4 linked regions of the Homo sapiens genome follow. The protein of the gene in region 2 interacts with the protein of the main gene of each other region in a pairwise test. Each region holds a gene or a part of one and is shown on either strand. Other genes may lie near its edges.

What was found.
Region 1: the proteins of CCDC57 (region 2) and TSEN54 interact in binary tests that used the Homo sapiens proteins (3 or more experiments, as listed by UniProt).
Region 3: the proteins of CCDC57 (region 2) and C19orf44 interact in binary tests that used the Homo sapiens proteins (3 or more experiments, as listed by UniProt).
Region 4: the proteins of CCDC57 (region 2) and AQP1 interact in binary tests that used the Homo sapiens proteins (3 or more experiments, as listed by UniProt).

Annotation. Positions count from the first base shown.
Region 1 is NC_000017.11:75,511,821-75,519,839, reverse strand, and holds the start of TSEN54 (tRNA-splicing endonuclease subunit Sen54), read right to left. Parts: upstream 3,313-8,019; 5' UTR 3,280-3,312; coding exon 3,224-3,279; intron 3,095-3,223; coding exon 2,930-3,094; intron 2,832-2,929; coding exon 2,768-2,831; intron 2,680-2,767; coding exon 2,596-2,679; intron 2,284-2,595; coding exon 2,185-2,283; intron 846-2,184; coding exon 793-845; intron 1-792. Other genes in the region: CASKIN2 (caskin-2), read left to right, coding at 6,036-6,129.
Region 2 is NC_000017.11:82,195,159-82,203,100, forward strand, and holds part of CCDC57 (coiled-coil domain-containing protein 57), read right to left. Parts: intron 6,795-7,942; coding exon of another isoform or gene 6,787-6,794; coding exon 6,380-6,786; intron 3,267-6,379; exon of another isoform or gene 3,265-3,266; coding exon 3,156-3,264; intron 1,939-3,155; exon of another isoform or gene 331-1,938; intron 207-330; coding exon 105-206; intron 1-104. UniProt on the Homo sapiens protein: Pleiotropic regulator of centriole duplication, mitosis, and ciliogenesis. Critical interface between centrosome and microtubule-mediated cellular processes. Centriole duplication protein required for recruitment of CEP63, CEP152, and PLK4 to the centrosome.
Region 3 is NC_000019.10:16,512,802-16,520,743, reverse strand, and holds part of C19orf44 (uncharacterized protein C19orf44), read right to left. Parts: exon of another isoform or gene 7,738-7,942; intron 7,731-7,737; coding exon 7,635-7,730; intron 6,248-7,634; coding exon 6,081-6,247; intron 3,515-6,080; coding exon 3,443-3,514; 3' UTR 3,403-3,442; intron 2,851-3,402; exon of another isoform or gene 1,586-2,850; coding exon of another isoform or gene 1,392-1,585; intron 1,124-1,391; coding exon of another isoform or gene 1,029-1,123; intron 651-1,028; 3' UTR 596-650; coding exon of another isoform or gene 479-595; 3' UTR 381-478; coding exon of another isoform or gene 237-380; 3' UTR 1-236. Other genes in the region: CHERP (calcium homeostasis endoplasmic reticulum protein), read left to right, coding at 237-380, 479-595, 1,029-1,123, 1,392-1,585.
Region 4 is NC_000007.14:30,921,491-30,926,596, reverse strand, and holds the end of AQP1 (aquaporin-1), read right to left. Parts: intron 4,532-5,106; coding exon 4,367-4,531; intron 4,034-4,366; coding exon 3,953-4,033; intron 3,148-3,952; coding exon 2,968-3,147; 3' UTR 2,771-2,967; coding exon of another isoform or gene 2,588-2,770; 3' UTR 1,081-2,587; downstream 1-1,080. UniProt on the Homo sapiens protein: Forms a water channel that facilitates the transport of water across cell membranes, playing a crucial role in water homeostasis in various tissues.

The sequences.
Region 1 (8,019 bases), 6.7 Mb from region 2:
GCACTTTGGGAGGCTGAGGCGGGAGGATCATTTGAGGTCAGGAGTTCGAGACCAGCCTGGGCAACACAGTGAAACCCCATCTGTACTAAAAATAAAATAAAATAAAAAAATTAGCCAGGCATGGTGGCACACGCCTGTAATCCCAGCTACTTGGGAGGCTGAGGCAGGAGAACTGCTTGAACCCAGGAGGCAGAGGCTACAGTAAGCTGAGATCATGCCACTGCACTACAGCCTGGGCGACAGAGTGAGACTCCGTCTCAAAAAGAAAAGAAAAGATGTGCCTGCTTTAGAGCTTTTGTGACATACTGTAACTGCAAAAGCTGTACCCGTTTCCACTCCAAGTCTGAAGGTCTCTGCCTTTTACCAATGCTGGATTACTAAGGTGATGAAGGAAAAAACATTTAACCTGGCATGAAAAATGTGAAACCCTACTAATGGTAAATTCTTCACCCAGTCCTTCATTTAAGCATACACTCTACATACCTGCCTGCGCACCTACTAAGTGCCAGGCACTGTTCCAATCCTGCCTCTCAGTGCTCACACACACTCAGCTGCAGGCGCAGGTCATCTGAAGATGCGGCTCGAGTTCATAAACCAGAATAAAACAAAATGACCTGGATTCCTCCCAACCTGCCTCTCTCAGAACGCTTCCAGCAGGCGCCCCCAGTCTGTGCCCAAGGAACTGCACTCCAGCCAAGGGTTCCAGGTAAGGAGAGGCCATTTTCTACCTTAGACTAGTCAGCCAGGTCCCAGGACTAGAATATATGGAAGGGGAACAGGAAGGGGATTTACCTTGGTTGGAATCGTCGAACCACATAACCCAACCTCTTCAGGTGGCTGAAGACCTCAAAAGAAAAAAAAAAAATGAAAGCTCAGATGGCCACTCTGGAAAACACCAAATGGTTTCTCCAGACACAGGCCATCCCCACAGCCCTCTCTGCCCCTCCTGTACACCCCCAGATTCTAAACCCTGTGATTAAGGTTGGACCATGCTTCATTACGAACACCATCCCTAAAGATCTCAGGCTCTGAATTCCTGTCCTCCCACTTACCTTACTCGGCACAAATGACATTTAGCCAAATCCAAAAAAACTGATAGCCATGAAACCAGAAAACCACCACGCCCTGAAATACTTGAGTATTTTGATACAAAGCTCATAGGAGTGAAGCTGCCGATCACCATGTGAACAAAATGATGGCAGGTGGTGGGCATCTCTCCAGCCCCACACCTCCACAGATGCCGGTGGGAAGTTTCTGGTAGGGAGCCACATATTCAACCTTGTGTCCCTGCATTCATATCAGAGGAACATAGATAAGAATGTCCCCCATCCTGCTTGATCTCAGCAGGCTTTAGCACAGCTAACCACTTCCTCCTTGAAAGACCTTCTTTTGGCTTCTGTGATGCGACTTTGGTTTTTCTCCTGCATCACCAGACACTCCTCGGTCTGTTTCTGCTTCTTATCTGCCCCCTAACCTACACAGAGAGCCCCAGGGCTCAGACCCAGCCCTCTACTCTGATGGCACTCCCATACAGCCCAGTAGTTTAAATACCATCCATGTGCTCATGGCACCCATATTTACATCTAGCCTTGACCTCTCCTCACACTCCAGACTTGGATTCCAATTGTCTGTCTGCTTTACACTCACTTGGATGTCCAAGAAGCTCCTCAAAATTAACTTATCTGACACAGTTCTTTCGACTGGTCTTGTCCTCCCAAATCTGCTCCTCTTCATTCTTCCCACTCAGAAAATGACAGCACCTTCATCCACTGGTGCATGCCCAAATCATGGGCGGTAATCCTGGGTTCTTCTCTCTCCTTAATCCTGACATCCAATCCATTGGCAGTCCTATCCATTCTTTCTCCAAAATATTTCTGAGATTCATCTATTTTTCACTCACTGCAACTCTACCCACCCCCAACCTGCGACAAGCCCCTAGCTTCTCTCACCTGAATGAACAGCCCAGTCTCTTTGGATTCTCTTCCCCCACCTTATCTTCTGACAGCACTGGGGTCTATGTGAAGCCAACAGGCCACCACCACAATGTAAGCCTCGTGACAGCATAGCCCTCGTCTGCCCTGCAGCCCCAGCATGTGACACTGTGCCTGGCACCTTATGGGTACTTGTCAATACTCATTGATTCAGTGGATGGGTGGCTCCCGGAGGCGGGGTGGTGGCAGATACCTGGTACTGCAGGAAGGTCACAGTGTGGTCGGTCAGCAGCAGCTGGTAAGCTTCCTGGATAGACAGTGGCAGGTCTTGGTGGAAGAGGTGGATGGAGCCCTGGAAGTGGGGCCAACAGCTCAGCTTATGAGCCCTCACTACAGTGCCACAGAGGAATGGGGCAACTTCCCAGCTCTGATACCTCCCCCTCCCCCTCTCAGCAGCGCATCAAGAATGTGGCCAACCAGGAAAGTGGGGCAGCATCACTAATGTGGACTGGAATCCCTGCTCCCTGCAACGTACCACCTCCTGCTTTAGAAGTTTGGTTATCAGTTCTCTAAAGACCGGGTTGTGTGTGCTTTTTCTCCGATAAAACGTGTCCTTCCCGTTCTTTGGTCCCAACTCCTTCCCCACCTCCCGGGCCCCACTTACACACTCCAGAAGATACAAGGCCTCTTCCGGGTGAAGGCGCTGCCGGCCCTGCTCTGAGAAGCCCATGGTCTGCCAGAATTTGCCCTGTGTGGGGCCCAGAGCAAGTGTCACAAGGGAGGGAGGGCAGGGAGGGCAGGGAGGGCGGTCCCCGGTCCCCGAGCCCGCCGCTCACCGCGGGAGACTTCAACTCCACGAAGCCCTCTTCTGGCCTCCACTCGGCAGCCACCAAGCTGCCCCTGGCGAGGAGTGGGGAGGGGTCTGCGTCAGTCCATTCCGGAGACCCCGCGGCCCGCCTCGCCCCCGCTTCCCTTACCCCTGGGCCCGCCCCTCTCACAGGCGCTCCACGCGCTGCTCTGCCAGCAGCTGCCAGAGCTCTTCCCGGCACCGGCGCAGCCGCTCGGCCTGAGCTGCCGAGCCGTCGGGCAGAAAGTCCTTGGGGCCATGCGAGCGCTGGGGCAGCTTCTGCGACCGCGAGCGGGCGGCGAAGAGCTCCCGGGCGCTGGGGGAGAAGGGGACGCGGGGTCAGCGCCGCGCATCGGGGGCCGCCTGGCCGGGTCCCGGGCGCCGGTTTCCCTACCCGCGCTGGCCCCGCGCCCCCGACACCCACTCCGGCCGGGCCGCGCCGCACCTGAGCACGCGCCCCGCGGGAACCTCCACGGCCGCGGGCTCGGGCTCGGGCTCCATCCCGCCGCCGCCTGCCGCTGCGCGCGCCGCCACGCCCCGCCCACCGCCGGAGCTCCGCGCTGCCCTAGTGCCCGCCGATCCGCAATGCCGCGGCAGCCCCGCCCCCTGCACCGCCCCAGCCCGCTCTGCGCCCTCCTGATTGTCCCCGGTCCTAGCGCCCGCCCGGAAGCGCACCCCGACGCCGGGTCTGGGAGCTCAGCCCGCAGGTTGCTGGAGATGCAGAAGGCCCCTCTTTTGCCCCTAGCCCTCCTCGGGGCTTCTCTCCAGTAAAGCCTGAGGAGCCGGCGTCTGGAGTGCAGTGCGAATGGTCACACTTGTGACCGCCCCTCTGCAGCCTCGCGCTGCTTAGTCCCCACCGCCCGGGCTGGGCAAGGAGGGCAGAAGGGCTCAGGGAAGGACGAGCGGAGGGTGTGCAAATTCCGACTTTGCAGGCCGAAGGCCACCCGGGAACTGTCAGGAGCGGTCCGGGGAGGTTCGCCATTCCTTCGGTGTCTTCCGTCCGGTCCCTACGGCTGGGCTCCGAAGCCAGGTTTCGAGGGCCGGGGGCGGGAGGCGCTGTCCGGCCCACGACGGTGCTGAAGCGCCACCTCCGCCCGGCACGAGCGCCTCCTCGAGGCTGGGGTCCCCGCACTGGTGCCGTCCGCTAGGTGGTGCCATTGCCCGGCCGGCGGCTGCGGGTGGGCGACGCCGGCCGCAGACGGGGGGTACTGCAAGTGGGGTCCCGCGTCTTGGTTGCCAACCCCCTTCACATTACGTCTTCTCTCCCACCAGTCAGACCCGGGGTGTCTAGCCCTTGGGTCTAAGTCCAGAGCCCCAGGTCACCTCTGCCCCCGCGCCCCCCGCCCCTCCGTTTCACCTGGGCGCATGCGCTGATCCGGTCAGCGCCCCCGGTCCGGGCGGGCACGAGTTGGGGCGGGATCTGGCGCGGATGGGGGCGGAGCCGCCGGTGCTGACTGACAGCCTGACTGCGCGGCCGGGACGGTCCCTCCGTTCCCGATCCGGCGGGAGGGAGGGGGGAGGGGCGGGATTTCCTGCGGGAGGCGCCGAGCCGGCCTTGGAAAAGGAGAAGGAGAAAGGGGGGCAGGGGGGAGTGGGAGCCACCGTCCTGAGTGCCAGGGACCGAGCAGGGCCAGCCGGACCCCGGCGGGCGGCCGGGAGAGGTGAGGCTGCGGGGCCCGCGCTGGGGGTCAGCGCCCCTGGGGGCGGGCGCAAACTAACTTTTCTTGCGGGGTCGGCGGGCACCTCCATCTCCCCGCTCCTTCCGTCCTCCTCGCGCCCCTTTTTCCATCCTCCGCGTTTATACCTCGGGCGCTTGGCCCGCCCGGCTTCTCCCGCCGCTTTGTTCCCCGGTGGGCCTGGGCTGGGCTGGGCTGGGCTGGGGGGTTGCGAGGCGCTGGAGGGACATTCCGGGGGGCGGGGGAGCCAGCCCGACCCCAGGCACTGCCAAGGGCGCCCTCCGCCCGTGTCGGCCGCGGGCTCCGCGTGGGAGTGCCCCTGGGTTGGGCTTGGGACGTTTGGGGAGTGAGGGGTTCCCGGCCAGGGCCCCAGGCCTGCGCGGATCTCATGCCACAAGACTCTGGCAGTAAATTCGCTGCCACCGAGAAACTGACGTAAGCTTCTCTGCGGTGGAGTCCAGGGTCTGGGCTTCAGGTTCAGGCTTGGGGGGCTTGGGAGCCCCGTTTGTCAGCAGTGCCCCAGCTCTCTCTGTTCTCTGCCCAGCTGCTCCTCCACCCGACACAAGGGGCGAGGGCGGGTCAGCAACAGGTGCTGTGCAGCTTCCCTCTCTAGCAGGCAGAGCCCCCAGAAATGGGGGGCCAGAAGCACTTCATGCTCTCCGTTCACAAAGAGTCCTAGGACTAGGGCATCCAGCCATTAAAGCGAAGCCTTGAAGCCTCCGTAGGGAGGAATCTGGGGGCTGGTGCCTTTGACAGGGAGTGACCCCTGCCCGCCTGCCTGTGCCTGACCCTCCCGGCCCCACCTCCTGGCCCGCCAGTTGTCTGTGGGTGTCGGAGCCTCGGGCTGTGGAGAACAGGCTGCTGGCCCGGCCTGCCCCAGTATGTCATGCTGCCAGGGCCCCTCCTGCCCAAGGTTGAGGTACTGCCAGGTGCCCTGGGGCCCCAGTGACTCAGCCTCCCCCTCCCAGAATGCCACCTCCCCCCCACCAATACTCCTCTCATGCATAGCAGCTTCCTCCCCACTTTCAGTGGCTCAGCATCACCATCGACTCCGAGGGGAGCCAGGGTGGCTTGGGGGCTCCCTGGAGGTCTTGTCCTGCTCATCCTCTGCACTCCACTTCTGGGACCCTTGCAGGCTGTGGCCCAGCATTCGACAGAGGCCCCGTGCTTTTTCCAGAGCCCTGAGACCAGTGCACCGCTGCTGCCTGAGGCCCAAGGGAATGCTGGCTGCTCTCTGGGTGGGCACTGGTGTTCCACAGCCAAGCCGGGAAGATTGGTGTGCCCAGTCCCAGCCCATCCTGGAGCTGTCGGAAGCCACAAGCTGATATCCATCCAGATTTCCATGTAGCCTTCACCCCCTCAAAGATTAGCTTTCCTTCGTGTGGTGGCAGTTCACGGAGCACCTTTGGGAGTATCCCTCAGTACCTGACGAGGAGCCCACTGCCTGGGACACCTGACTTGCTCCCCCGGAACCGGGAGCCCTCCAAGGGGCTGTGGCATGGCGCCCTGACGCCCCAGCTTGGACCCGTTGCCTGCCTTTGCCCTGGACTCCTGAGTGTAGAGCTCAGCCCAGGAGCCAGTATGGGTCGTGAACAGGACCTGATCCTCGCCGTCAAGAATGGAGATGTGACCGGTGTGCAGAAACTGGTGGCGAAGGTCAAGGCCACAAAGACAAGTGAGTACCGGGTGGGACGAGCATCCCGCTGAGGCCGAGCGCTCAGTTCACAGAGGCTTGGTGGGTGGGGGTGGGTCACTGTGATCTGCATATTTGAGGAGGGTGGACTGTCTTGTTCTCAGTAAGAAGTGCCTCTGTGTGAGAGAGCCAGAGAGAAAGTTGGGTCCCCCTTGCTGTGTGTCCTTAGGCAAGTCACTTAACCTCTCTGGGCTGCAGTTTCCTGGCCTGCAAAATTAGAGGGTTGAAGTACGTTCATTCACATTGTTATTGAGTGCCTATAGCTTGTCACCCAGGCTGGAGTACAGTGGCAGGATCTCGGCTCACGGGAACCTCCGCCTTCTGGGTTCAAGCCATTCTCCTGCCTCAGCCTCCCTAGTAGCTGGGATTACAGGTGTGTGCCACCATGCCCGGCTAATTTTTTTTTATATTTTTGGTAGAGATGGGGGTTTCACCATGTTGACCAGACTGGTCTCGAACTCCAGACCTCAAGTGATCCACCCACCTAGGTAGGCCTCCTAGTACTAGGATTACAGGCGTGAGTCACTGTGCCTGGCTCAGGCTCTGTTCTAAGCACTGGATCATAGTAGTGAACAAAACAGACCCAAATTCCTGTCTTCGTGGAGTTGCCTTCTAGCAGATGGTCTTTCTGATGTGTTCTTTGGAGCCATGAGATTTCTGACAGTGGGTTAGAGAAGACTGAATAGATAGAACTTCATCCCTACCCCCAACCTCAAACGCACACATTTCAACCAGAGCACCTCTATGTTCGTGTCTTAAGAGGATATCTATAAGATAGCTGTTTTTTTTTTTTGAGACGGAGTCTTGCTTTCTCACCCGGCCTGGAGTGCAGTGGCATGATCTCAGCGCACTGCAGCCTCTGCCTCCCGGGTTCAAGCTATTCTTCTGCCTCAGCCTCCCGAGTAGCTGGGATTACAGGTGCCTGACACAACGCCTGGCTAATTTTTACTAGAGACGGGGTTTCACCATCTAGGTCAGGCTGGTCTCGAACTCCTGACCTCAGGTGATCCACCCGCTTCAGCCTCCCAAAGTGCTAGGATTGCAGGCATGAGCCACCGCACCAGGCCACGAGATAGCTTTTAAAAAGGGAATTCTACTGCTTAAAAAAAGTTCAACACTCTCTAACAAGTTGCTAAAGTTTCTCTTCCCCTGACATGTGTGTCCTGGTGGGGTGTGGCCAGAGCTCATTTACTGGAGATTTTCACCTAGCCTCGAGACCTGACCGGGCTGTGGGGGATCCATGCACAAGCGGCCACACCTGAGCCCCATGTCTTGGGTACCTCTGTGGTGCGACCCCCCACAGGGAGAATAGACCTCTGGGCTTCAGGGAGGGCTCTCTGGGCTGTCCCAGGAGGCCGCTGGACTTGTCACCTTGAGATCCCAGATCAGCATAGGCAGGAGGTGGTTCCTGCCACCAGACTGAGGCAGGAGGAGTTCCCTGGATGGGAAGGTCTCCTCTGGAGTTCAGGGGCTCTAGCCCCAAGATACACCTCGGTCCTGTGCACAGGAAGGAGTCCCCCAGGCTACCTGAACACCTGGGGTATGGGTGCCAGAGGAAGGGCCTTAACCTCATGCATCCACTAGCACACTGGGGCAGGAGACGCAGGGCCTGGAGAGGTGGAGCTGTGGGGTGGTCTCTGTGCCTAGGGAAGTGGACACAGGGTGGGTGCCACTGGGGAGGTGCTAAGGAGGTCCCAGGGGAGGGCCCTAAGGTCCAGCAGTGCAGCCACTCCCCTCTTCTGTCACCTCTGTGTTGTTTTTGGCAACCTGCCCAGTGGGGCCTTGGTCAAGCTGCTGCTGGCCTCACCGCTCTGGGTCCTCAAAGTGAGGCCCTCAGGAGGGCAGGCGGGAGGGGTTTGGAGGCCAGTGGCG
Region 2 (7,942 bases):
TCTTGCCTTGGTCTCCCAAAGTGCTGAGATGACAGGTGTGAGCCACCACACCTGACCAAGGAAAAACCGAAAAACCTTCACGACCCAAGGGTGCCCCCAGTTACCTTAAGCTCCCGGGACAAGGCTGTGTTGCTCATGTTGTCAGCCTGCAGACGGAATTCGTGCTCCCTCTTCCGCATTTTCGATTCAAACTCCAGCAGCAGTTCCTGGAACAAACAGGTTTCATGATGAAAGAACAGTGGGAACCCAGCAAAGACCCCCACCCACGTCCTGGGAGGTGGGATCCAGAGGTGAGCAGGACACAGTGTTTAACAGAGAAGGACCACACACACTGTCCAGGAGAGAAGCTGGGGTCAGCGACACTGGTAACAGCACTCTGGGAGGCCGAGGCGGGAGGATCGCTTGAGCCCAGGAATTCAAGACCAGCCTGGGCAACACAGTGAGGCCCTGTCGCTACAGAAAAAAAAAAGAAAAGAAAAAGAAAAATCCTTATCTCCATTGAGTCAATTCTACCTCTGACAATAACAAACACCAAGATCTTCCAAAACAAGACAAGAAATCAGAGCAAAGGAAACCATGAAACTGACAAGCACGTAAGACCCTAGCTTAGTAACTAAAAGGCTGAGATGCCGGCAGTAGAACAGAGCTTCCCGACAGCCAGTGCCAGCATCCCAGAGCCCACACAGGATCGGACTACCCAGAACCACACCGGATGTGTGCTGCCCAAGTTTCCCCTAGTAACCAAAGCTGCCACGTTAAAACGTCACGTTTCCTTCTTTCCAGAGACAAGGATACTATCTGAACATGATAAAAAATCCATGTTCCCAACGTCTGAGATGGCTCTCCCTGAACGAGCCCTGCTGAGTCTGAGAAATTCGGCGTGGACAGCCTGGGAAGTCAGCCATAGTCACGGCCCAGCCAGAAACTCTGACAAGAATGGCTGCGCCCTGCCAACTACAACCAGCCTCAAATCGCCACTGTCCCCAGATGCTGCCAAGAGCCCCCCACCTGCTGGGCAGGACCACCCACAGCTGGATCCTCCTCAAACTCCTTCTTTGGAAGTGACTTTGGAGCCACTTGAGGAAGCCTCACTACTTAGAAAAGTCACCACTGGTCTCTTACTGACCACGGATTTTAGACGCTGGCTTCATGCCTAAAGAACTCCGGCTGTTCTCAAACTCATCCATAATCGACAAAGCTCTTTGGTTTCTGAGAATTCCAAGAGAAAGTCCTCTGCAGGCCATTTCAGAAGCAGCCTCAGGGACCTGTGAACAACGGGAGTGAGCTCAGCACTTCCGGGGACAACTGGACAGTCCACAGGAGGGCCCATCATGACGTGAGCGTGGCCTCCTTCTCTGCTGACCTGACTGTGGCAAATTAGTGACACACTGGCCTATCCTACTATGACCAAGCTCCCAACATCCGACAGGACCAGAGAGGGGACCCTGTCACACCTGCACAAAGCCCTTCATCACTGCTGCACCTGCACAGACGCAGCCCCTTATGACACCCCCATAGACACAGCTTCTAGTAACACTTACACCTACCTGCATAGACAGAGCCATTTATTACACCTGCACCTGCAGAGACGCAGCCCCTCATCACACCTGCACCTTCACAGAAGAAGCCCCTCAGGACACCTGCAGAGACGCAGCCCCTCATGACTCCTGCACCTGCAGAGACGCAGCCCCTCGTGACTCCTGCAGAGACGCAGCCCCTCATGACTCCTGCACCTGCAGAGACGCAGCCCCTCGTGACTCCTGCACCTGCAGAGACGCAGCCCCTCGTGACTCCTGCACCTGCAGAGACGCAGCCCCTCGTGACTCCTGCAGAGACTCAGCCCCTCGTGACTCCTGCAGACGCAGCCCCTCATGACTCCTGCAGAGATGCAGCCCCTCGTGACTCCTGCAGAGACGCAGCCCCTCGTGACTCCTGCACCTGCAGACACACAGCCCCTCATGACTCCTGCACCTGCAGAGACACAGCCCCTCGTGACTCCTGCAGACGCAGCCCCTCGTGACTCCTGCAGAGACGCAGCCCCTCATGACACCTGCAGAGACGCAGCCCCTCGTGACACCTGCACCTGCAGAGACGCAGCCCCTCATGACACCTGCACCTGCACAGGCACAGCCCCTCATCACACGTAAACCTGCAGAGATGCAGCCCCTTGTCACATATGCACACAGTGGCAGCATCTCTGACTGTGGTCTCTAGATATAAATCTATAGGATGTCTTTCAACAAAACCCCAGCACAGCTGAGTCTCTTGGAGGTGTAGGCTGAGTTTCCAGAACATTGAGGAGAAATTCGGTGACTGCCACTTTTCAGTTGAAGCATCTGTTTTTAAACTTATCATAATTGAATTCCAAATTCTTTTCCATAGTAAATAATTCATGTTTTTAAAATTATACCTTTCTAAAAATAAATTTAAAAGTTTCATCATTTCTGAGGTGTGCTGGTTAATTCCATGTGTCAAATGACTGGGCTACGGGCTGCCCGGATAGCTGGTAAAAAATTATTTCTGGGAGTGTCTGCAAGGGTGTTTCCAGAAGAGACTAGCCCTCCTCCTGTGGATGGGCGTCATTCAATCCACTGAGGGCCTGAATAGAACGAAATGCAAGGAAGGGTGAACTCGCTCTCTCTGCTTGAGCTGAGACACTCGCCTTCTCCTGCCCTTGGACATTGGGCTCCTGCATCTTGGGCCTTCAGAGCTGGACCAGGACTCACATCAGTGGCTCCCTGGTGCTCAGGCCTTTGCCCCTGGGCTGAATTACACCACCAGCTTCCCAGGTTTTCCAGCTTGCAGATGACAAACTGTGGGACTTCATGGCCTCCGTAACTGCACGAGTGAATTCCTACAATTTATCTCCTATATATCTACACGTCTCCTATTGCCTGTTTCCCTGGAGAACCCTGACTAATCCATGAGGAAAGAAAACAAGGAAACACTGTGGAGGTGGCTGCATGTAGACATCCCATCCTGTTTCCCTGCAGACCATCCCAGAGTGGCATCTGCCCCAAAGACCCCATTTTACTCCCAAGGAGAATGCAGGCAATGAACCAAATGGTTGTCTTTTCCTCAGCCCTATATGATTTCAGTTTCACAGTGGGCAGGCAGGGAAAGCACCCAGGAAGGGGCCGACCCAGAGGCTCTACCTGTCTCTGCAGAGCAAGCTCACCGTCGAGCTCCTCAAGTTTTCTCTCCAGTGTCCATTTTAGATTTTCATACTGTTCCCGGTGGTGGTCAATCTCACCATTCTTGTCACTATGGTAATAAAACAGCATTAAGAAAAGCCATACCAAATATTCAGCAAAGGTAATACATTTTCAAGGTGCACTTGACATGTGAAAGTTGGTGCTTTGCTTTTATGAAGGGGTGGCTTCAGCAGGACCCACGGGGTAGCAGAACTTCCAGCCCCACCTGGACCAGCATGCTACACCCATCTATAAAAGAGGAAATTAAATAGGGCCCAGAGTCTCACAACATAAAACCCAAAATGTCCAGGATACAATTAAAAAAAAAACCTGACAACCAAAAACCGGAAAGATCTGACCAGGCCCAGTGGCTCACGCCTGTAATCCCAGCACTTTGGGAGGCCGAGGTGGGCGGATCACAAGGTCAGGAGATCGAGAGCATCCTGGCTAACACGGTGAAACCCCGTCTCTACAAAAAAATACAAAAAAAATTAGCCGGGCGTGGTGGCGGGCGCCTGTAGTCCCAGCTACTCGGGAGGCTGAGGCAGGAGAATGGCGTGAACCCGGGAGGTGGAGCTTGCAGTGAGCTGAGATCGTGCCACTGCACTCCAGCCTGGGCGACAGAGCGAGACTCCATCTCAAAAAAAAAAAAAAAAAGAAAAAGGAAAAAAAAGAAAGATCTGAGCTTGAAGGAGAAAAGATAATAGGTAGATGCCAACACCAAGATGACACAGACGCTGGAATTCTTCAACAAGGAAGCTACAGCAGTCATTATAAAAGCGCTTCAAGTAATCTAGTAAAGCAAATGGAAAAACAAATCTCAGCAAAGAAAAAGCTATAGCAGGCTGGGTGTGGTGGCTCACGCCTGTAATTCCAGCGCTTTGGGAGGCCAAGGCAGGTGGATCACCCGGGGTCAGGAGTCCAAGACCAGCCTGGCCAACATGGTGAAACCCCATCTCCACTAAAAATACAAAAATTAGCCGGGCATGGTGGCACACACCTGTAGTGACAGCTCCTCGGGAGGCTGAGGCAGGAGAACCCCTTGAACCCCGGAGGCAGAGGTTGCAGTGATCCGAGATCGCGCCACTGCACTCCAGCCTGGGCGACAGAGCAAGACTCTGTCTCAAAAAAAAAAAAAGAGTGTGAGACTGAAAAAGTACCTGAACATGGCTGAAAACATCCCAGGTTTGGAGAGAAGAATGAGCAAAAGACTTGAAGAGACACTTCACAACATAACGTAAAGCACTTTTAAAAGGATGCTGTAAACACTCTGGAAAGCAGCTATGAGAAAGTCAGCACCCGCACGGCGGGCAAGTGGGCCTCAGCTGTCCAAGCACTGCACGCACCTGCACGGACTCGGCGCCCAGACGAGGTGCAGGCTGAGCACCAGCCTTCATGCTGGGGACGGGAGCTTCCAGACACCCTCCCTCCACTCAGGGAGAAGCTGACCTCCAGCTCAACTCTCTCTTTCCCTGGACACTGGGCAGGTGGCACACGGGTGTCTACCACATTAGCAAGCAGCACTGCGTGGGTCAAATGACTGCTGACTGGCACTTTTTATCCACGCCGCGAGATGCGATAGAGAGAGGGACCATCAACACTGTGGGCTTCCCAGAAGACGGTGGCGCTCAGGGTACATCTGCTGCAGGGACTGCAGACGCGATCCCTGCGGGCTGCTACAGGAGATACTGGCTGCACAATACTGGTTGGGGCTTCTGAGCTAGAGGGGCACCACACCCACCAATGTGGGTCTCCTCTCCTTGCACCTGACCTGCCGCAGAAGGTCTCTCTGCTGGACCGGAGCACCTGGTGTGGTCCTGTTGGCCCGTTCACACCCATCTGAGACCCTTCTGAGCAAACCGGCCCAACACACACAACAGAGGGTAGCTGGTCAGTTAAAAGGGCGTGGCAGAACCCAGCGCACTGACACGAAGGACAGACACCACAAATCGATCAGGAAGTGCTGGACGCACATTTCGGAGCAGTGTGCGCAGGTGGCTCTATATGGGGCCTGGAGATGACACAACAGATTGCCCGTGGCGGCTTTCACTTCGCCATTCCACCACAGTATCTTCTCTGAGAAATGACTTTCTATGATAAGAATAGTTTACTCCTGCGGCTTTAAAAAGTGCTTTAAAAAGCTGCTTATGGCCAGGCGCGGTAGCTCACGTCTATAATCCCAGCACTTCAGGAAGCCAAGGCCAGTGGATCACCTGAGGTCAGGAGTTCAAGACCAGCCTGGGCAACATGGCAAAACCCCGTCTCTACTAAAAATACAAAAGAAAAAAAAATTAGCCGGGCGTGGTGGTGGGCACCTATAGTCCCAGCTACGTGGGAGGCTGAGGCAGGAGAATCACTTGAACCCGGGAGATGGAGGTTGCAGCGAGCCGAGATCACGCTACTGCGATCCAGCCTGGACAACACAGCTAAAAACTCTGTCTCAAAAAAAAAGAAAAGAAAAAAAATGCTGCTTATGTTAGAAGAATACATAAAACATAAAAAAAGTACCCAGGATCCTGTTAAGTGTAAACAGAGCATGCAGCCGGCTCTCCTAACGTCTGTACACACGCATCACACAGGAAGGGCCTCTGTTAATGTGCTATGATGAACCTGCGGTACTTCTGAAGTGGGGGATGGAAGAGCTTATCAGAGAAGCCTGTCCTCCTTCCTTCCTGTCTCCTCAAACTCTCCACAGCATGGCTGGGTGAGTGGAGCTGAGGGGATACCAGGCATGTGGTTGAGTTCCAGGGGCCCCACCACAGGCCCCACAACAAAGGCTTTAGGTTTTTATGTCGACTTGCCTTAAGTCAGCTCATTTAGTTTTGAAATTACTACAGACTTCCATTAAAATCATTATAAATTCAAATATGTATTAATATAGATTTATAATTAATGAAATAAATTCCAAATATTAAAACCAATCTCCATTAATTTCAGAGTTATATCAGAACCCAGAAAAAGACAGTCAGGGCATTCCTGGATCCATCCACATTAACTCAACAAACACATGTTCAGAGGCCACGAGGCACTCGGCCACTCAGACAGACCAGCTCCCGTGGCCTGGAATCAGCAGCGGGAGGAGGGGCAGTGAGAGTGGGCAGTGCTCGGGCAGCACAGCGGAGCAGGAGGCATGTGGGGGCCTCTGCCAGGCACTGCACAGGAGGGCGCGTCGGTCGGTGGCTCACCTGTGGACGCGCTCCAGCTCCAGGCGATGCTCCTGGAATGCCAGCTGCTGCTGCTGCTGCAGCTCCTCCACCTTCCTGGCCTCTCTGGCTAGCGCCTGCCTCAGCTTAGCTGCCTCTATCTTGAGCTCGCTCACCTCTGCCCGCCTGGCCTCTTCCCACTCCCTGGCCTGGGCGAAGGCGGCGTCATAGCGCTCCAGCTCGAGGTCCCGCTCCTCCAGCACCTGAAGGTTGTAGACAAAGTCCTCCTGCAGGCACCGCAGTTTCCCCTGCGCCTCCTCCAGCTGGCTCCGTGTGTCCTGCAGAGCCGCCTCCTGCAGCTGGGTGCGGTGTGCCTGCAGCGCCCTCCACTCCTCCTCCTTGCGAAGCAGCAGCTCATTCAGGGCGGGCTCTGAGCCCAGTGGCAGCATGGTGGCCGCTGCAGTAAAGAGAAATCAGGTTCAGGGTGCACCGTGAGGGGCCCTAATTTTCCTACCACAGTACCTACCTCACATTCCCTATCAACAGTTACCACGGCCGGGCACGGTGGCTCACACCTGTAATCCCAGCCCTTTGGGAGGCCGAGGCAGGCGGATCACCTGAGGTCAGGAGTTCAAGACCAGCCTGGCCAACATGGCAAAAACCTGTCTCTACTAAAAATACAAAAATTAGGCCGGGTGCAGTGGCTCACGCCTGTAATCCCAGCACTTTGGGAGGCCCAGGTGGATGGATCACTTGAGGTCAGGAGATCGAGACCAGCCTGGCTAACATGGTGAAACCCCGTCTCTACTAAAAATACAAAAAATTAGCCTGCTGTGGTGGCACGTGCCTGTAGTCCCAGCTACTCGGGAGGCTGAGGCAGGAGAATCGCTTGAACCCAGGAGGTAGAGGTTGCACACCAGCCTGGGTGACAGAGCAAGACTCTCTCTCAAAACAAAATAAACAAAAAAAAAAGGCCAGGCATGGTGGCTCACTCCTGTAATCCCAGCCCTTTGGGAGGCCAAAGTGGGTGGGTCACCTGAGGTCAGGAGTTTGAGACCGGCCTGGCCAACATGGTGAAACCCCGTCTCTACTAAAAATATAAAAATTAGCCATGCATGGTGGCGCATGCCTGTGATCTCAGCTACTCGGGAGGCTGAGGCAGGAGGATCACTTGAACCCAGGAAGTGGAGGTTGCAGTGAGCAGAGATCGCACCATTGCACTCCAGCCTGGGCGACACTAAGACTCTTTTCTCCAAAAAATTAAAAAAATAAATTAAAAAAAAGAAATCCAGGGGAAGTAGAGGAAGGGAAGATGGGAAACATGGTTTGTCCAGCTATAAGAGCTAGGTTCTATAAAATAGCTTCAACGCAGCACTCTGTCCATTTCACAGCTGAGAAAACTAAGGCTGCTAAGTGGCTACGTGAGGACTGACAGCAGGTCAGTCCCTCAGAACCAATGCCCCTTCCCACCCAACACCCTGCTCCTGGAAGATTCACCACCTGATATGGTTTCGATATTTATCCCTGCCCAAACCTTTGTGGAATTGTAATCCCCAACGGGGGAGCTGGGGCCTGGTGGGAGGTGTTTGGATCATGTGGGCGGAC
Region 3 (7,942 bases), on a different chromosome or scaffold from region 2:
TCACGTCCACCCTCACACAGCCTGTGCCTATGGGGCGGTGTTTTCCACAAGGCCTGAATTCACACAGCAGCAGGCTCGGCCACACTATTTAGGAACTTGGTACCGTTGCTGTGGCTATGGCGCCACATCCACAGCCAGAGCCCCTGCATCTGGGGTGGTCTAGGAACCTGAGGGCCAGGGTGGGCTGGGTGCAGCCCATCCACTGGGGCACCTGATCATCAGGCCTCTCCCCACAGCGGACCCTCGAGGTCTCGGAGCAGATCCAAGAGTCGAGGGCGTTCTTCCTCCCGCTCCAACTCAAGATCCTCCAAGTCTTCAGGCTCGTACTCAAGGTCAAGGTCGCGCTCCTGCTCCCGTTCCTACTCCCGCTCCAGATCTAGGTAGGCAGAGGCTGCCTCAGGGCAGTGCCTGAGGCCTCTTCCTGTGGCCTCCCCACGACGCCTGGCTGCTGCTGACCCTTGGGCACCCTTCCCTGCAGAAGTCGGAGCAGGTCGCGCTCCTCCAGAAGCCGCTCCCGGTCCCAGTCGCGGTCCCGGTCCAAGTCGTACTCCCCAGGAAGAAGACGCCGGTCACGGTCCAGGAGCCCCACCCCGCCGTAAGATCCTGTCTTAAGTGCTGCGCTGGTAACTCTGGGAAGCTGCGGTGCTTTGCTGTGAATGTGGAAACATTGGTGGTTAGGAGACTGTGTTAGGAGGCCGCCAGCATTAGCCCGGGGACAGTGGCACCCCTCACCCTTCACCACAGTAGCCACTTGGCGAAGCCTGAGGCAGTAACTGGGGTCTGCTTTCTAACCACCATCTGGGTTGGAGGTGTCCTGCTCTCAATGCTGAGCGTGGGGTGGGGGCCAGCGTCTGGAGCCCCCTTATCTAGCTGAGACAGGATAAACGGGTAGAGACGCAAAATCTGCATACGGTGTCACCTGGTGACAGTGAGCATGCACGCAAGCTGCGGCTGTGAGGTCCTCATCACTGTCATTCCAATAAATGTCTCAGTTACTTCTTAAAAAGAATAACCTGTCTCGATTTTAGTTCCTCTGCTGGTCTGGGTTCTAATTCGGCGCCTCCCATCCCTGACTCAAGGCTCGGAGAAGAGAACAAAGGCCATCAGATGCTGGTGAAGATGGGTAAGGCGAGGGAATGGGGAGGGCGCGGGATGGGTCCTCACGCGTGCTGGGCCCGGGAGTCACCAGCGCTTTCTCTTCCTCAGTGCATGTGGGGATGGATGGAGTCAGGCCGGTTCTGACTCCACCCAGACCCTCTAGACAGGGCCGGCCTGCGGGTTCTCTCTACCCATTTCCCATGTCTACACTGCCTGTCTGGACATTCAGCCCCCCACGTGCACCCCCATCTGCCTCCGCCTTGTTGTGGTTGTGACTGCGTCTCTGTTTCCAGGCTGGAGCGGCTCAGGCGGCCTCGGTGCGAAGGAGCAAGGGATCCAGGACCCCATCAAGGGCGGGGACGTCCGGGATAAGTGGGACCAGTATAAAGGCGTGGGCGTGGCTCTGGATGACCCCTATGAGAACTACCGCAGGAACAAGAGCTACTCCTTCATCGCCCGCATGAAGGCCAGGGACGAGTGTAAGTAGGCGCCCATGCCGGGAGCCGCGCCGGTGGCCAGCGGTGCCGGCTGTGGGACCTTCCTGGCTGACTGGCAGAGGAAGATTGCAGTGACAGCTCAGTTCTTACACCGTCTCCACTTGTGGAGAGCCACAGGAAGAGAAGGAAGACCAGCGCATGCCCAGTGGGAACGCCGTGCTCCATGGCGTGGAGGGCACGGGTGCCACCCACAAACCACACCAGGAGGCGCTGCAGCCACCAGGGCCCCAGGCTCGTTTTCCTTTATAGCGAAGCAAAAAACACAAGACCCTCCGCCCGAGTAAATTCTTCAGCCACGAAGGGATGGATGTGCATCTGCCCTAAGTCAGATTGAAGCCTCCTCCTAGGCTCCAGGAGGAGCATGTGCAGGAAGGGTTGGCCTGAGCCAGAGCCGGCACCCCAGCTCCTTCCTCCAGCTCCCCGCACCCACCGGCCCTGACCTGGCTTCCCCTCGGCTGTGTAGGGACAAAGCCGAAGCCCAGTGCCATGACTGCCCGCGGATTGAAAAACAGAAACACAAAACTTTGACTTGACTTGCGAAGTGAAGCAGGGTTTTCATTTTTACTCTCCTTGGTTTAGGTCTAGAAAGAAGAATACTGACCTGAGAGGAGGCCCAGTGAGATTCTGAAACCTAATTCTTCGAAGGCGTACTGGCCCTTAGTTCAGTTATTTTAGTTGTATAAGTTGATATTTTTTTTCTGGAATGTAGCCATTTGCTGTTATCTGGGAAACAAGATTCTAACAGGAAACCAGCCTAAGACACTTCAGGTTGAGCGCTGCCTCGGAGTCTGTGCCCGTCGCGTCCCCTGCTTGAGTTTTGCACTTGGAAGAACCCTGCACCGGCTGGCGTGTGCGACGGCCCAGTCCCATCCAGAGCATGGAGCCCGACCCCAGCCAGCGCCTTCCACTCCATCATTTCATTTCACACCCCCGAAGGGAGGGGAGGCCAGGAGGGGAGCTGCTCCTGCCAGAAGCTGGTGGGTGACCGTTGGGAATCGGCCACACCTGGTGTCCATGGGCAGCCTGGTGCAATTCCATTCATTTGTACAGAAACATTTTTGAAAAATTCTTTTCAATAAGATGCAAAATCTTCCAACTTTTCAACCCAACGTGATGAATATTTGATTTTGTTCTAGATTTCCTGTAGCTGTGAATTGTTAAAATGTATGATTCAGGATAAAACGTAAACACGTGCTGTTAGTAATTTCTTGTGGATTTCATTGTTTTGCCTTCAAATAAAGCCTTTTTTTAAAGACCTTTCTCCCGCACATGTGTAAGTCAGAAGTGTGCACGGGCTGAGTGAGGAGACACATGTCCTGGTTTGAGCTGTGCAGCCTGGGGTCAGAGGCCGTGTCCAGGGGCTCACATGGCGTCCCCAGCGTGCTGACCTGGTCCCATGTCCTTACCCTCGAGCAGGGCTTCTCCCATCCACCCTGTCTCCCTCTGGCTCACTGGGATGCCAGGACCTGCCTGGGTGGAGCTGCTCTGCAGAGGCTGGTGGCCCCTGTCCTGCTGTGAGTGGGGACAGCTCCACTGAAATTCTATTTCCACTGGCCTGTGGTGTCATAGAGCTGGGCATGCTGCTGGGAGAGCTGTCACTGAGCTGGGATTTGGCTCAGAGGAGTCTGGGGCCCTCACCGCAGCACCACCTGCCCCACCATGGAATGTCACACCTGGATGCTGACTGTGTGTGTGTGTGTCCATCACCCCAGTACCACCTGCCCCCACCACGGAACGTCACACTTGGACACTGATGAGCTCTATGTTTGTGTGCGTGTGTGTGCACTGAGTACACAGGACGGGATACCTTTTGTTAAGACGTCACGTCAAGCTCCACCTGCTGGCGCTCACAGCTCCTTGTTCACCTCCTCCAGGGCATCCTCCATGGTCAGTGGGGCAGGTCTGTGGCACCTAATGTACTGTCAGGCAGAGAACAGACCACGCCATCACCATCGTCACCTCAGTACACTCTGAGACAGGGTGCTGGAGGAGGGAGTGGAGCCAGCACCTGTCCCCAGCAGGCTCCTGTCAGTGACAGAAGTGTAAAACCACAGGATGTGTGTGACAGGTTGGCGCACGGGGCTGTGGGAACACAGGGTAGAGGGTCAGCCCTGCGAGGGGTGAGCCCTGACAGAGAAAGGGAGGGGTGCCTGTGAGTGCCCTTGGAGTGGCTGAGATCAGGGAGAAGCGCCTGGAGCAAGCAGCTGGGAGCTATGGTGGGCTGCAGCCAGGTGGCACAGTCAGATGGCTTCTGCCTGCATCGGATGGGCTGATGGACGCCCAACAGAGGCATGAGTTCAAAGCCCCCAGAGGGCTGCAATGAGCAAAGTTGACATTGTAGAGACCCGTGGGACTCACAACCTGCCCTCTTCAGCAGATAAACCACAAGGAAACGAGAGGCCTGGCATGCAGGGGACTCGGCACAGTTCCAAAGCAGCGTCCCGGGGCATGTGGGAGAAACGCCTAGCTCCAGGCCCACCCCGCCTGCTTGCGGGCCCAGCATCGCTTTCACAGGGCTTCCAGGGGATCCCCAACCGCTCAGCATTGAGAACCGGTCGCTGCTCTAGATTAAGAGGCTCAAAGGACATATCGGATAGTATGGACTTTGGATCCGAATTACCAAATCGGAACAAAACACACAACTTTAAATCAGACAAGCAGAAATCTCAACACTGGATATTCCTTGATACTTAGTAAATTTGGTTTGTGTATTATTGCATTATGGTTGTTTGTTTGAGACAGAGTCCCGCTTTCTCCCTCACTACAGCCTCAACCTCCCCAGCTCAAGTGATCCTCCCACCTCAGCCTCCCAGAGAGCTGGGACTACGGGCACACACCACTATGCTAAACTTAAACTAGTTTTCTTGTATTTTTTAATAGAGATGGAGTCTTGCTATGTTGCCCAGGCTGGTCATGAACTCCTGGGCTCAAGCGACCCACCCTGCCTCAGCTTCCCAAAGTGCTGGGATTACAGGAATGAACCACCACACCTGGCTTTAACATCACTTTTTAGAAATAAACACTGAAAAATTTGTTATGTAAAATGTTTAAAGCAGGGGGCGGTGGCTCACGCCTATAATCCCAGCACTTTGGGAGGCCGAGGCAGGTGGATCACCTGTGGTCGGGAGTTCAAGACCAGCCTGACCAACATGGAGAAACCCTGTCTCTACTAAAGATATGAAAAATTAGCTGGGCATGGTGGTTCGCACCTGTAATCACAGCTACTCAGGAAGGTGAGGTAAGAGAATCACTTGAACCCAGGAGGCGGAGGTTGCAGTGAGCTGAGATTGCACCATTGCACCCCAGCCTGGGCAACAAGAGTGAAACTCAGTCTCAAAAGAAAAAAAAAAGTTTATGAATAGATCACCATAAAGGACTGCATATAGTATAATGCCATTTCTATAAAGAAATACGTGGCCAGGCATGGTGGCTCGCACCTGTAATCCCAAAAATTAGCTGGGCATGGTGGCAGGCACCTGTAATCCCAGCTACTTGAGAGGCTGAGGTAGAAGAATCGCTTGATCCCAGGAAGCGAAGGCTGCAGTGAGCTGAGATCACACCACTGCATTCCAGCCTGGGCAACAAGAGCAAAACTCCGTCAAAAAAAAATTTTAAAAAAAAGAAATACGCATACTATGGTTCATACAAGAGTCTGAAGGAGTATATATATCAGCTTGGTAATAGTTACCTCTGAAATTAAGGAGAACTTGCAGGTTACACATCTCTGCAACAAGATTTTCAGAAAACAGCCACGTAATTTTTGGTAATCAGATTTTAAAAAGTTTTTTTGAGACGGAGTCTTGCTCGTCACCCGAGCTGGAGTGCAGTGGCACGATCTCAGCTCACTACAACCTCCACCTCCCAGGTTCAAGCGACTCTCCTGCCTCAGCCTCCTGAGTAGCTGGGACTACAGGCGCCCGTCACCATCCTGGCTAATTTTTGTATTTTTAGTAGAGATGGGGCTTCACCACGTTGGCCGGGCTGGTCTCAAACGCCTGACCTCAAGTGATCCACCCATCACAGCCTCCCAAAGCACCAGGTGTGAGCCACGGCACCTGGCTGGTAATCAGATAAAAATTCTTAGAGGGTAAAAAAAGAGGTGAGGGTGATTGCTGAGGAGAACAGCTGGGCCGCCTCTGGCCCCATCTCGGGGATGTCTCAGGAGGCTCAGGGAAAGGGACAGGACCCCTCCCATGGGAGAAAACAGTGCCACGAACAGTAGGTCCCTTTAGTCTGAGGTCACACAGCCCAGGCGGGGCTGGCTGCAAGGTGCAGGAGCTCAGCACCCCACCCTGTACCAGCTTTTGCCACAGGGTGGCAGGAAATGAGGCTCCCTCCACAGGGACAGGTGATGGCCCCACTGCATCCCTGCAGCCCTGGGCTGAGCGCTGGAGCCCAGGCCCCGGCCCATATCCCTTCGGCCCGGCCTCTGGGAGCTGCCGCTCCCCTACTGCCCTGCCCCTGCCCATGGGGAGCTGCGCTCACCTCTTTGGCTTCCTCCAGGGTGTGGTAGTGGAAGGAGTCCGCGTCCAGGGAGCGCAGGAGGGAGGCGTGCAGGTGCCGGCTGGCCTGGATGAACTGCTGCGTCAGGCTCAGCTGCTGCTTCAGCACATCATGGAGTGCCAGCACGGCCGGGCTGTAAGCGGTCAGGGCTGACCCAGCTCCGCGTTACTCGGTGGCTTCGCTGGGGCCCCACAAATTCTGCAGCCCCCCCCCCACCGCTCAGGTGCCAGGCTGCTCTCTGAAATCTTTTTTTTTTTTTCTGGAGACAGGGTCTCGCTCTGCCACCCAGGCTGGAGTACAGCGGTGCCATCACAGCGCACTGCAGCCTCGAACTCCTGGGTTTAAGCAACAGTGGCTCACACCTGTAATCCTAGCACTTTGGAAGGCTGAGGCAGGCGGATCACAAGATCAGGAGTTCGAGATCAGGAGTTTGAGACCAGCCTGGCCAACATAGTGAAACCCCATCTCTACTAAAAAAACAAAAAAAAAAATTAGCCAGGTGTAGTGGCAGACACCTGTAGTCCCAGCTACTTGGGAGGCTGAGGCAGGAGAATCGCTTGAACCTGGGAGGCAGATGTTGCAGTGAGCCAAGATCACACCACTGCACTCCAGCCTGGGTGACAGGGCAAGACTCCGTCTCAAAAAAAAAAAATTAAAAAATTGAAAAGGGAAAAAAATAGTAGGTACCAGATGGACCCCTACGTGTATCACAAGCCTTTATTGGCTCCACTGGACTCGACAAAGACTAAACTCTCTAAGATGGCTGCTGGGGCCCCTCCCTCATGCCTCAGGCTGGACTGGAGCCTTTGTGAGGGCCACACAGACTCAGCCCAGGAGGCAAGGGAATGTCTACCCAGGCTGTGCAACTCAGCATCAGTCAAATACATGTCTTCAGGGGAAATAAACTATGGCTTATTGATGTAATGCCACCAAGGGGAACATACAAAACAAAAGTGGTCTTGTGCCAGGCAGGGCGGCTCAGGCCTGTGATCCCAGAACTTTGGGAGACCGAGGTGGGCAGATCATTTGAGGTCAGGAGTTCGAGACCAGCCTGGCCAACATGGAGAAACCCTGTCTGTACTAAAAATACAAAAATTAGCCGGGCGTGGTGGCAGGTGCCTGTAATCCCAGCTACTCGGGAGGCTGAGGCAGGAGAATCGCTTGAACCCAGGAGGCAGAGGTCCCAGTGAGTGGAGATCGCGCCACTGCACTCCAGCCCGGGCAACAGAGCGAGACTGTCTCAAAACGAACAAACAAAAAAAGTGGCCTTGTTGGGGTGCAGGGCACAGAAGCATCACTCTTCACCCTCTTGTTTTGTGTGACATTGGTGTCTCTTTGCAAGAGACAGAAGGTTCAAGGGCATCCACACCTTTTCTCTCCTCATGGCAGGTGCCTGTGGCTGCAATAATCCCTGCCCAATGGACCCCTGGAAGCCAGCATGCAAGGGGTGCCACACCTCCAGAGTGGGTGTGAATCTGCAGGTGAAATGAGTCCTGTAAAATGTGACAGGAAGGATCCCCCGAGCCGGGCTGTTACCTTCTATTGCATCTGCACTGATAACATGATTGGCGATGGGTGTCGGGTCCACGTAGGCGCCTCCCAGGGCAGGCCCCATGGCTGCCATGCTGGCCACTATCTCGGGGACAAAGAGAGGGGTAAGCAGGCAGGACGCAGAGAAATGACTTTCGGGTCCACAGATACGACCCTGGAATAAACTACGTGACCTTGTTCTTCCCTCTTTCTGAAGGTGATCGCCACTCTTGCATTTTTTTTTTTTTTTTTTGGTTTGAGACAGGGTCTTGCTCTATTGCCCAGTCTGGAGTGCACGGCATGATCACAGCTCA
Region 4 (5,106 bases), on a different chromosome or scaffold from region 2:
AAATTAAGGAGACAAGCTGAGAAGGGCTGTGAGAGATAGCCTCGGCACACCCTCACAGGCAGGCCTGGGATGCAGCGGGCTGGCCCATACCCAATTCCCATAGCTTGGCTGGCACTCTGCCATTTATATGCCCCTCTTAAGCTGGGAGATAAGCTTCCTTATCTATTAAATGGGCTAGAAGTTCTTGCAAGGGAACGGAAAAGAGTGTGCAGATGTGATGCACTGATTTGCAGGGACTTAGACAGCCTAGTGACCCAGGGCACACTTAAATTAGAAACCCTGTTCCATCAACATGGCCTCAGTCTTCATTGCGGATGCCTAGCCCCTGGCTCCCTGAGACCCAGCCCCCCTTATATCACCATCAGCCAGGCATTCCACAGAGGGGACAGGAACCATGTGTCTCCCAGGAGCAGTGCTGGGGCCCCAGGACCTGTCCATACACTATTTCCTGCCTCAGCCCACTGCCGTGGTGATACCTGTTCCCTATTATCAGGCACTACTAAGTGTGTGTGCACGTCGGGAGGGTCAGGAGCCAGGGTCCCAGTCTCAGCCTGAAGTAGCCCTAACTGCACTGGGCTCTGATGAGTGAGTCTGTCTCCCATGAGACGCCCAGCCCAGGTCAGATGGGTTGCAAATGTGAGTGGAGGGAGGGAGGAAGGTGGAGCAATCCCTAGTGTTCCCTGGGCCCTGCTCTGTGGAGGGTAGAGGGGATGAGGGGGCTGTTAGACTTCAGCCCTGCTTTCCCCCATCCCTTCCATACTCCGGAATCAGAAATGGCTCCCATCGGTCCATTTAAACTGATCAGAAGCCTGCCCCTTTTCCCTGCCCCCAGGTCTCCAAAGTCATCCCACTGGGCTCTGGAAGTCTCCTACTAGGGGCAGGACCCTGTGTCCCTCAGATGGGGTTCTGTGGTGTGGCTGTATCCATTGCCTGAGATCAGGGGTCTTGAAGGCAGAAGGGGAGGCAGTGGCTCCTCCTCAGACTGGGTCTCTAGCAGTGGCCTGATTTCCTTGTGGAGTAATCCAGAAACATTTGTGGGGACACAGCATCAAAAGAAGAAAAACTACAGGAAGCCTGAAGGACCTTACAAGTCATTTTCCTTTATTTTCTTAACATATAATGAAATTCCAACTCCAAAGAGACATATATGCAGAGCAGACAGATGCAGGGCCTTGGTGTGCAGCAGCCTAGAACCAGGCAGGGGGTGGGTGTGACCCCTCTCCCCTCCATCACAACTCTCCCCACTCCTGGCCCCTGGCCATTGCCCAGGCAGAAACTGAGAAGCTGGAAATGAGAGGAATCAGCCTCGTGGTCCAGGGAGTAGCCAGAGACAGGGCCTTGGTTACTAGGCCTGGCCAAATCATTGTCTAGCTGAAACCGTGGGCCTCAGTTTCTTTATCTGTTAAATGAGCTAGAAGTTCCTGCTAGGGAATGGAGAAGAGAGTGTGCAGATGTGATGCACTGGTGATAGTTAAGGGCCTTCTGGTTGTCCCTCTGCTTCTAAATACCTGCGTAATTGTGTCTCTTGGTTTCTGTTGCCATCATGGCTAAGTGCACAGTGGTGGAGCTGCTCTGGCCCTGGTGGAATTGAAAGGACTTATGTAGATAGAATCCAGCCTTCAAAGCTGATCCTGATCTCTGAACTGTCCTTGGGCTGCAACTATAGCTACCTCATTAGGTCAAGGCTGACCTCTCCCCTCCAGGTCAATGCAGAGGGAAGGCTGTGGCCAGGGGTCATACAGCAAGCCTGTGCAGGTTATTCAGCTGCTCAAATGCCTCTGATCAGGAGCTCATGAGCAAGGGAAGAGCTTGCTCCATCCTGGTCAGGACCAGCTGAGGGCTTGGAAAACCCCCAGGCCCAGCAAGGGCATCTGCCTCCATGGGCTGACCTGCATCAGGGTCTTTCTGTCCTCAGGCTTTGGGCTTCAGACAGCTCAAGTGCTCTTTGATAAACATACACCAGCATAATGGTGACCTGTGTCTACACTGACAAGAGGGAGTAGAGAACTGAAGAATGAGCAAGATAATGCAGTGATAGATGGAAAGACCAACTAAAACTCAGAGAAGTAACATGGGTATTTCTCCTTCACCCTCTAAATGGCTTCATTCTGCAATAGCAGGCCCTGTGTAGGGAAGCCTCTCCATAGGGAACAGAAAGTTCCAACTACCTGGCTGTCTGTCGATCTCTGCTTTGTAGCCTGTCTGCTCTGCACACATGTACACAGAGGCGTGTGGCGACAGTCATGCCCCTGGGGAAAGAACACAGGGCAAGTGGAAAGAGCAGCCCTGGTCTAGACCACGTCTTCTGGACCCATGCTGTGTTTGCACTTAGGGGCTGCAGGCCTGTAGAGCTCTGCCGGTCCCTGCCACTTTGCAGAAGGAGGTCACTCAGGCCCTGATATAGGGACGATTCCAAGGTCAGGCAGTAAGTCCGAGCGGGTCAGGGGCTTGGGAGCAAGCAGAACTGAAGGAGCAAAGCTTGCCCCCTCCACTGCACCTCCTGGGATCTCTTCCCCCTCCAAGCACCATTGGGAGCAAGGTGCATGTTAGGAAAAGAAGGAGGGCCGTGCCCAAAGGCACAAAGCAATTACGGTAGAATCCCAGGCACTTGCGCAGGTGAGTCGGTGAGCAACTTTGGGGCGAGGGGGGACTTTCTGGCACACCTCCCATCATGCTCTGAGGGGCGACTAGCAGGTGGGTCCCTTTCTTTCACCTCCTCCACAACTTCAAGGGAGTGGGTGAATTGGTAAATCTTGGTCCCCAGGAAGCTCTGAGGCCAGGAAACAGAAAGAGAAAGAAAGAGATAGAAACACCCCCATAAGAGGCTTGACCATGCAGGTCTGGCAGATCTTGGGGAAGTGACTTTGGCCAGCTTGTCAGAGTGTCTACAGTATGGATTTCACCCCTCCCCTCCCTCCGCCCGCCCCTGCCCCTGCCCCCTACGTGGATGCCCGGGCCAGACCCCTTCTATTTGGGCTTCATCTCCACCCTGGAGTTGATGTCGTCGGCATCCAGGTCATACTCCTCCACCTGGCCGCTGGTCCACACCTTCACGCGGTCTGTGAGGTCACTGCTGCGTGGGGCCAGGATGAAGTCGTAGATGAGTACAGCCAGGGCTCCCCCGATGAATGGCCCCACCCAGAAAATCTAGGAACAGAGCAGGTGTGTTCAGAGGGCTCCACTCAAAAGCCCCTGGGAAGCGTTCCCTAGGTTACCCCACAGCCCACCACCCCGTTGGACAGGTTTTTCCCACCTGGGATGGAGGCAGGTAGGAGAGCCAAATCCTAACATCATGATTCCGGTGCCCCTCAGAACCGGCCCAGGCCAGAGTACGTGGTAGGGTCAACTCCTTGCCTCTGTGGGGCCCAGCTCAGGCATGGGCAGTAGCAGCCCCTTCTTGAGGAAGGCCACTGCCCCCACACTCCCAGCTTTGGAAGGGCCCCAGAGACCATTGTCTAATGCAAAGCTGGCCTAGCACATCCACATCCACAACCATAAGAGCTAAAATCCACTGAGCGCCTCCTCTGTGTTGAGCTCAGTTTACAGATGGGGAGTGAGCCCTTTCCTCTTCTCGGCCACCCTGAGAGGTGGGCACCACCATATCCCCCTCCGCAGCTCAGGAAACCAAAGCTCAAGCACACTGCGCAAGGTCATGCTAAACCCGAAAGTGGCTGAGCCAGGATTTGGAGCCCCACTTTTAACCACGCAGCTGGGAAGACCTGGAGGCCAGGCAGCATGGGGCAGGGCCGAGCTGGGAGGGCAGAGACTAGGCCTGAAAGTGCTGGCAGTGTGACCCCCAGCCTGCCTCTACATGGCAGGCCTCAGTTTCCTGATTTCCTGTCCTCTGGCTGTCTCCCAGAGCCTCCAGAACAGGAAGGGACACTGTGAGGGTGGGGTCAGGCTTACCATGGGACACCAAAGCTTCCCACCCCACCCCCCGTGGGTCTCCTACCCAGTGGTTGCTGAAGTTGTGTGTGATCACCGCGGAGCCAAAGGACCGAGCAGGGTTAATCCCACAGCCAGTGTAGTCAATCTGTGAGGGAAAGAAACAGAGGGAGGGGCGAAGGCAGAGAGTCATAGGTGAAGAGAGAGTGAGAGGAGGGAGAGGTTGGAGGGAGAAAGAGAACAATCAGGGTGGGGGACAATGAGACCCAGGGAAAGAGGAGTGCTGACCCCAAGCTGGGCAGGAGGTCCCTGTGCTCCTCTCCAGGGCAGGACCCTGCCCCCAGCCCCCAGCGCTGACCCGCCATCCTCCACCCAATGGCAAGAGCCCTGTCGGGAGTCCCACTGGCTGCCCATGGCAGGGCACCCCACCAGCCCCCGCCCTCCCTTCCCCCACCTCCATCTGGGAGGGCCCCTGACTCACAGCCAGGAGGTGTCCAAGGGCTACAGAGAGGCCGATGGCAAGGGGGGCTGAGCCACCAAGGTCACGGCGCCTCCGGTCGGTAGTAGCCAGCACGCATAGCACCAGCTGGAGGGTCCCGATGATCTCGATGCCCAGGCCCTGGCCCGAGTTCACACCATCAGCCAGCTGCAGGGGAGAGAGGTGGTGAGGACTGGTGAGGAGGGTAGGCAGGGACTGTGTCCCAGGACCCCAAGGATACCCAGGCCTCCCAGGCCCAGGCATGAAGGGCGGACCCTCAGATGGGCCTTCAGAGCCCATCACAGGGTCCCAGGCAAGCCTACACGGCAGGTAGTGGAAATCAGGCCTTGAACCCACCCCCTGTGTTAATGAAACTCCAGCCCAGCCCCTAATACCTGCCTAGACCCAGGCCCCACTCTGCCTAGAAGCTGGAGAGGCCTGGGGTGAGCTGGGGCCTTTGCATCCAGCTGCATCCAGGCCAGGGTATTCTGGGGTACCAAGACCAGAGGCAAGGGGCGAGCCCCAGGCATGAAGGTGATGGTCAGGAGCACTCCTAGGAGAAGAGATGCAAAAAGGTGGGAAGGCCCAGCAGGGGACACGGCTTCATACCCAAAAGTCCAGAACATTCCACCCCATGCCCGACTGCATCTAAATTCCAGGGCTGAGGAGGCCTTCGGTGAGGTCCTGGCTCCCTCCACCCCTCTTTCTCCTCTGTGCCTGCCTCCCTATTGTCTCCACCCTCT